Regions from separate parts of the Homo sapiens genome. Here region 2 is reported to be linked to region 1. The links are microRNA targets in miRTarBase. Many come from high-throughput screens and were not tested one by one. Region 1 holds a microRNA gene; the other region holds the end of a gene's coding sequence.
Evidence for each region. The annotated mature microRNA hsa-miR-493-3p reads UGAAGGUCUACUGUGUGCCAGG and lies in region 1 at 1,968-1,989, shown strand. An mRNA with a match to its seed (bases 2 to 7 or 8) in the 3' UTR can be bound and repressed. Matches are read on the target gene's strand: a 7mer-m8 pairs with bases 2 to 8, a 7mer-A1 pairs with bases 2 to 7 and ends in A, and an 8mer does both.

Region 2: the mRNA of KCNB2 is a reported target of hsa-miR-493-3p. The part of its 3' UTR that is shown has no 7-base or 8-base seed match.

What each region holds. Positions count from the first base shown.
Region 1 is chr14:100,867,149-100,870,554 of GRCh38, forward strand. It overlaps MIR493 (microRNA 493), which reads left to right and starts at 1,912; the gene lies at 1,912-2,000. RefSeq lists an enhancer at 391-560.
Region 2 is chr8:72,937,780-72,941,185 of GRCh38, forward strand. KCNB2 (potassium voltage-gated channel subfamily B member 2) reads left to right here. Exons shown (of 3, transcript NM_004770.3): 3 at 1-570. The coding sequence ends at 312. Among named protein-coding and RNA genes, the nearest start is that of KCNB2-AS1, 58 kb to the left of the region's middle.

The DNA.
Region 1 (3,406 bases):
TGCAACTTGGGACTCCTGGCAGTGGGGCTAGTGTCCTCCATTCACCCCTGCTCCTGCACAGTCCCCAGCCCTAGGTGTGCACCCTCTAGTGTGGGGCGAATGGGCTCCTATGCCCATTAGCTCTGGGTTAGGCTCAGATGTATGTGCCGGGCTCCTGTTATGGGAGGGCTCAGAGCACAGGGGCCCCTGGCCTGGGAGCGGGTAGCTGTGTGCATGTGTGTGGGTGTGTGTGCCTCCATGAGCCTGTGTGTGCCTTCGTGAGCCTATGAGTGTGTGAGCATGCCCGGTGTGCACGTGTGTGGGTGCGTGTGCCTGCCAGTGCATGCGTATGCAGCTCTATGCTTGTGTGTATGTGCATGCGTGGGAGACAGATGGTGGAGAGCGACTGGGAGTGGGCGACAGTGGATCTGTCCCTGAGCCTACAGCACCCTGGGTGCCGATGCCACATCCACATCCTGCCCCCAGACCTGCTTCCCGGAGTCACCCATGCCTATATCCCCTGTGGCTTTGCCCATCAGTCCGTCTTTGTGTCCAGGTCTGCCTCAGTGGACAGAAGAGTGAGAGTCTTGGCCCTTGAACCCCTCCTCTTCTCCATCCTTCTCCACCTCCCCCCCTGCCTCTTCTTGGCAAAGCAGCTGGAGTGAGACCTGGGCTGAGGCCAAGGTTGGGGGTACTGTGCTCCCATGAGCTGCAGACACCGTCCTCTCACCGGCTCTCCCTCCTGTGTCCTGGAGTGGAACCCACCCCCGTTGCCCACCCCTTAACCCCTGCCCCCTTGTCTGGGGTTCTGGCCATCCCCCCCACCCCCACCCCCTAGTCTCCAGCTTCCAAGGCAGCTCCCAAGACAATGGGTTGAGCAAGGGGCAGGCTGGGTCCTGTGCCTAGCCCCTCAGCTCCCCCAGCCACTGCATGGGGCTTCTGCTGCTCTGTGGCACTGGCTGGGGAACCTCAGGACCAGATGGGGCCTCCCAGGCCTCGGCTACTGCATCACGCTCTGGACAGGGCCTTGGGCCCGGACGACGCCTGTGCCCGCCATGCCCTCTGGCCAGATGCTGCACCCTCCACCCAGCCTCCAGGTGAGTTCTCGTCATACCCACGGTGCCCCACCCTCCTTGGCATCCAGGTGATGCATCTACCTGAGGTTCCGAATCCAGGGGGGAAATGTTTGCCTTTGCACTGCATATTTACACACTGATTTGAATTGAGGGGTTCCCAAAATGACATCAGGCTTTTTCTGAAAAAGTCTGTTTTGCCCGATTGGTTTGCCAGTGAGGTTCAGAGTGGACAAATCAAAATGAGCTGATTCCAGACCTCTGAGGTTTTGACAAGTGCTCCATACCTAGCATTTGTCACATCTATATGCTATAGTATATGCCAGAGGCCACCTCATTGCAACTTTGTAAACTTCCTATTAACTTTTACGGCCCATTTAAAAATGGGCTATGGGAGGGGGAGATCCGTGGCTTTCCAAAATCCCTTCATGGGGTCTGTAAGCAGAAATGTCTGCTGCCCCCTGTTCCAGGGCACGTCCCACTCCTCACTGGCAGGGCTCTCGGGCTCACTGATTATTCTCTGAGGATCACACAGGGTCGATTTTCTGTGAATGCAAGTGCGTGGGGTGGGTGGTGGGGCGTCGAGCTGAACGCTGGTCTGGACAGGAAAGGCTCCTGCTTCATGTCCCACCTTGACCCTCAGAGGTTTCCAGGCCCAGCTCTTGGGCCCTGGCTTCCTCCTCTCCCTCTCGTCTTTGGGGGGGGTCCATCTCATGCATGTCTGTTACCATGGACTCCATCATCACGGCTCCCATCACCTCCATCTGGCCTCTGTCATCCTGGGCACAGCATCTCATCTCTGGCCATTCCAGCCTCCATCACCCGCCTCACCTCCATCATCCTCGCTTCGGGGCTCATTCTGGCCTCCAGGGCTTTGTACATGGTAGGCTTTCATTCATTCGTTTGCACATTCGGTGAAGGTCTACTGTGTGCCAGGCCCTGTGCCAGGCATCGTGTAGATGGACGTTGCCCTTGTGAGTGCACGCCTCGGGGAGACGCACGCCAGCCGGTGGATGGCAGGAGAGCCTGGGCCAGGGCTGGGGGTGGGGGCGTGGGTGTGGGCATGAGTGCAGAGGAGGGTGAGCTGGTTTCCAGAAGGGCGGGATCAGCTGGGGTGGTGGGCAGGGGGAGGAAGTGCGGGCTCAGCTGAGGTCCTGCTGTGTGGAGCCTGGAGGGAGAGATTGCATGTCCCCTCTCTATTCCCCATGGGTCATCTCAGTAATGGCTGCCGGAGTTCAGGGGTCCCTAGATTGCTCCCAAGGTCCTCACTCCCAAGTCCTTGGCAAGATTCCTGCGCCCCAGGAGCCTTTTGGCACCTGAACTCTGCCACCTAGTCTGCTGGTCAGCCTCTGTGCTGCCCGCGTTGGTGGGTGTCATTGGATTGTTAACGATGTACGTTTTGCTCTAAAATGATGGTGATTGAAGATGGGAATTATTTTGTCAGTTGATTTTAATGTTTTCTTTTTTGTGTGTGAAGTGTTTGTTGTGAAATATCTATTTTGGAAGTTTTTAGGTGTTGGAAAGCCAGAATCTGGGGCCCTCTGGTGTCTAGGAAGAACCTGTGATGCCCTGGGGTGAAGGGATGTGGACTCCCAGGGACAAAACAGTGGACTCTGAGGTCCTCAGGGTCACCTCCCTTTAGGGACTAGAGCACACTCAGTATTCGGGGGCCTCTGTGGTCTTTAAAGATGTCCCATGTTTGCTAAGGAAATGTTACTTTTGCTGGAGGAACTTCTGAAAAATGTTTAGAATTGTTTACCTGCATGTTTTATCTCGTTCAGAATTAGAATTGGTGGCATGTAGATATGCTTCTGGGTCTACCGAGATGAGGCAGGCCTACTGGGTCTCCACCTTCAGCTCAGGACACCCATCATTCACCTGGGAGGGGCTTGCTTCATTAGATGTTCACAAGGCTGAAAAGTGTCCCAGCCTCAAGTGTCACGTGGAGCCTCTTCCACATGCATCGCCAGAAGCGCCTCCTCCCCCATCACTCTGACCCCGCCCCACACAGACGTGTCACACTAGGCTCCTCCTCGAGTCATGTGTCACCGGTGGATGGCAGGAGAGCCTGGGCCAGGGCTGGGGGTGGGGGCGTGGGTGTGGGCATGAGTGCAGAGGAGGGTGAGCTGGTTTCCAGAAGGGCGGGATCAGCTGGGGTGGTGGGCAGGGGGAGGAAGTGCGGGCTCAGCTGAGGTCCTGCTGTGTGGAGCCTGGAGGGAGAGATTGCATGTCCCCTCTCTATTCCCCATGGGTCATCTCAGTAATGGCTGCCGGAGTTCAGGGGTCCCTAGATTGCTCCCAAGGTCCTCACTCCCAAGTCCTTGGCAAGATTCCTGCGCCCCAGGAGCCTTTTG
Region 2 (3,406 bases), not on the chromosome of region 1:
ACTGGTGACGACGAAGACTTCTTAGAGCTCCCAGGGGCAAGGGAGGAGAAGCAGGTGGACTCCAGCCCAAATTGCTTTGCAGATAAGCCTAGTGATGGGAGAGACCCTTTAAGAGAAGAGGGCAGTGTGGGCTCTTCCTCCCCGCAGGACACAGGTCACAACTGTAGGCAAGACATTTACCATGCTGTGAGTGAAGTCAAAAAGGACAGTAGTCAAGAAGGGTGCAAGATGGAAAATCACTTGTTTGCCCCAGAAATTCATTCCAACCCAGGAGACACAGGTTATTGTCCCACACGTGAAACCAGCATGTGACTAGTTACAAAAGCAATAAATTGAAACAAAACAAAACAAAACAAAACTTGTTTCTTAAAAATGCGGTTAATAATGCCTGTGAACTAAAAAAATGGGAAGCCCTCCCCAAAAAAAGTGCATAAAATGTTATTTTTGCATGGCATGAACAGTTTAGCTTAAGTACTGTTTAAATAATGAGTCAAGACTGCATTTTGTAACAAACCAACAAAAATGACTGAAGAACAGTGAACAAATAAAAAGAGCTCTATTAGGAACCAATATTCTGCAATGTCTGACATTTTTGATCCTTTCATTTCAAATTGTAGGCCGATTTTCAAGTCTTAACGTTTATTTTACAATGAAGCTTAGAATTTTCACATGAAAGGATGAAATGTCATTGCATGCATTCATAATTATGAAGAATAAGGTACTGTGAGCTTGCAAAATGCATAACTTTGTAAATAATGGGGCCTGGATGCAAAAGTGTCATGAACACATGGAAACAAATTTCTGAGACACAGGTATTTCCTTCACAGCTACTGCCTGGAGGAGCTGTACAGACTTCCTGTTGCAAAATTGCAACCTCTCCTTAAACCATCTCGCATATCTTGCTTTGAGTTATAAAGCTCTTAAAAGTACATTTGTTTAAAGGAATACAGTATTTTTTATTTATTTGTGATATAATTCATAGGCTGCATTTTACTTTTTTGCTTCTGCTTAGTTGTGGCATTTGTGGTTCATTTATAAATCATAGACATAGGCAAGATTTAATGACCAGATATCAAAATATTTGAAATTTTGCCAATAAGTTATATGTCATGCCACAGCCGATTACAGAAATGCATTTTTTAAAAACCTGAAATTATTTAAAAGGTTGTATCATACAATTAAATGTTTTTAAGGCAGTCTACATTTGGAAATTAGTTCTGTTAAAAAATTTGGCCACCTAAAGATGACTGTATTTTCCACTTGTATCCAACATAACATAACCTTTCCTAACTAAAGTTCTAAAAATAGAATACAGATATGCCAAAATGGAAATTCCAAAAAGTGACTTGACAAACTAAAAGCAGAGTCATTTAAGTGAGATTGCCGCTGCCACTCATAGAGTTGGCTGGGAGATGAGTTACTATGAAAAGAGCCCAGGCGTGGTAATGGGTCACCCTATATTTCTCAACATGGGATGCGAGGTGGGGGGACACTGCAATGTGTGGGAGGAAGTTGTTCTTTTTGCAGGATATGAATTACAGAACCCAGAGCACAGATGGCAGTCACACCCTCCTGTAATTACAGCAACTAGAAACACCCCCTTGCATTTCCAACCTTTTCAGGGGGTGGTTGGGACTCTGTTTGTTCAAAATGACTTTCAGCATTTTTGACTAGGAGCGGTGAAATCCAGAGCAGTGAAGACACTGACCAGAGATTGCCCTGTTGGTGAAGTCTGTGCTAGAACCCAGGTCATCTTAATTCACTTTGCTTCACAGGAATCAAGGCTCTGGTCCAAATTTGCAACCACCAGATGTGGGATTCTAGGCAAGCCTGTACAACCTTTCTTGATCTCAGTTTTGCTCCAGTAAAAATCAAGACAAAATTATTTCCAAGGTCCCATAAGACTTTAATATGATTCCTTGGTCTCCCAGGAAGGTCCAGATTTTGCCTCAGCCTGATGCACTTTGTACACGTCTGTGTGTGTGTGTGTGTTTGTGTGTGTGTGTGTGTGTGTGTGTAAAATTCAGGGAAACAGGAAGATGCTGGGCCAAATTTAAAGCACAATTCATGTTTAAATTAAAAAATTCTGAATTTTATTTTATTTTTAAAAGGAAAAAATAGCCCAAATATTTAGACTGTTATTTAAGTCTTTAAAGAAAAACATTTCTTTATTAACAGAATCTGGTCATTATATCTCAGATAAGAAAACAGGTTTTGATTTTAGTTGAAACACAAGCAGACCTACTGCTAAAAATAATTTTAAACATTTCTTTTTTCACTGTGCTTAGAATTTCTTACTGGTTTTCATGTTTGTTTCAAAACATAACCTTAAAGAGTTTATGGTCACTAATCGTTGATATTTACATTACTCATACTTATTTCAGTGTCTAAAGCTAAATATTGATCAGTTTTGTAAATAGAGTGTTTGAATTTTCTGTCTATAGTTTTTCAAGGTCAAACAGGTATATCTGCTGTTAGATGCATAGCAAATAATTTATGAAAATCATTTTATTTACATAGCCTCATAAAGCAATTATTTTCGAACATCTCTTATTGATGAATCTCAACTCTTTTTATTCATCTTTCTGTATAAGTGGACTTGTCTTAATGCGCTAAGAGTTGACTGATGCCCACCTTTCCTATGTCTGTTAGGCCTTCTGCTGACAACACTGCTCCAGAATGTTTAATATTAGAAAGCTTGCCTAGTCGAAGAATCCTAGACATTCCTCCCTAGAAGCATCCTCCCCAAAATCTTTTTTCCCTTCATTCTAAGGTACATTTTTAAGTTTTAGAGAATTTTCTAGTACAACGCATGGAAGCTTATCCTTCCATTTTCCTTAGTTCCTCTGAGCCAAAAGTCTTCAGCTAGGAAAAAAAGAAAATGCTCCTCTAAGAAACATCTTTGACTTTGGTGTTTCACAAGGAGGCAGTGTGGGGACTGAAGGCTCCCAGGATGCACTTGTGTAGCACTTCCTAAGCCTTTTCCATGAACTGCACCTAACGCAGAGAATAAACATGTGTGCCTGGAATGGTCTGGGAATGTCCCAAGCACAGAGTTCTTTTGGAGTCTTATGTTTTACACAAAAAATTCATGTAAATGCTGCATTTTACTTCATAATTTTATATATTCCATATGTTTAAATATTTTAAAAATAATGTTTTATATTATTTACCAACTAGTAAAATGGATACTTGTGTAACTTTAAATACGTCTTTTGTATCCCCTGGAAAAATAGATCCCCAGTTTGAGATGCACTGCATGAATGGCAGGAACAGAGATTGGTTCCCTGAGGGCCACTGGAGGTTTCTGCTGCTGAGAGCACTCACCCCGTGTTACAAGTGAGGATTATTTGAATGACTACAAAATAACTCAGTTCCATGTATGGCTAATTTGATTCTTCTGACT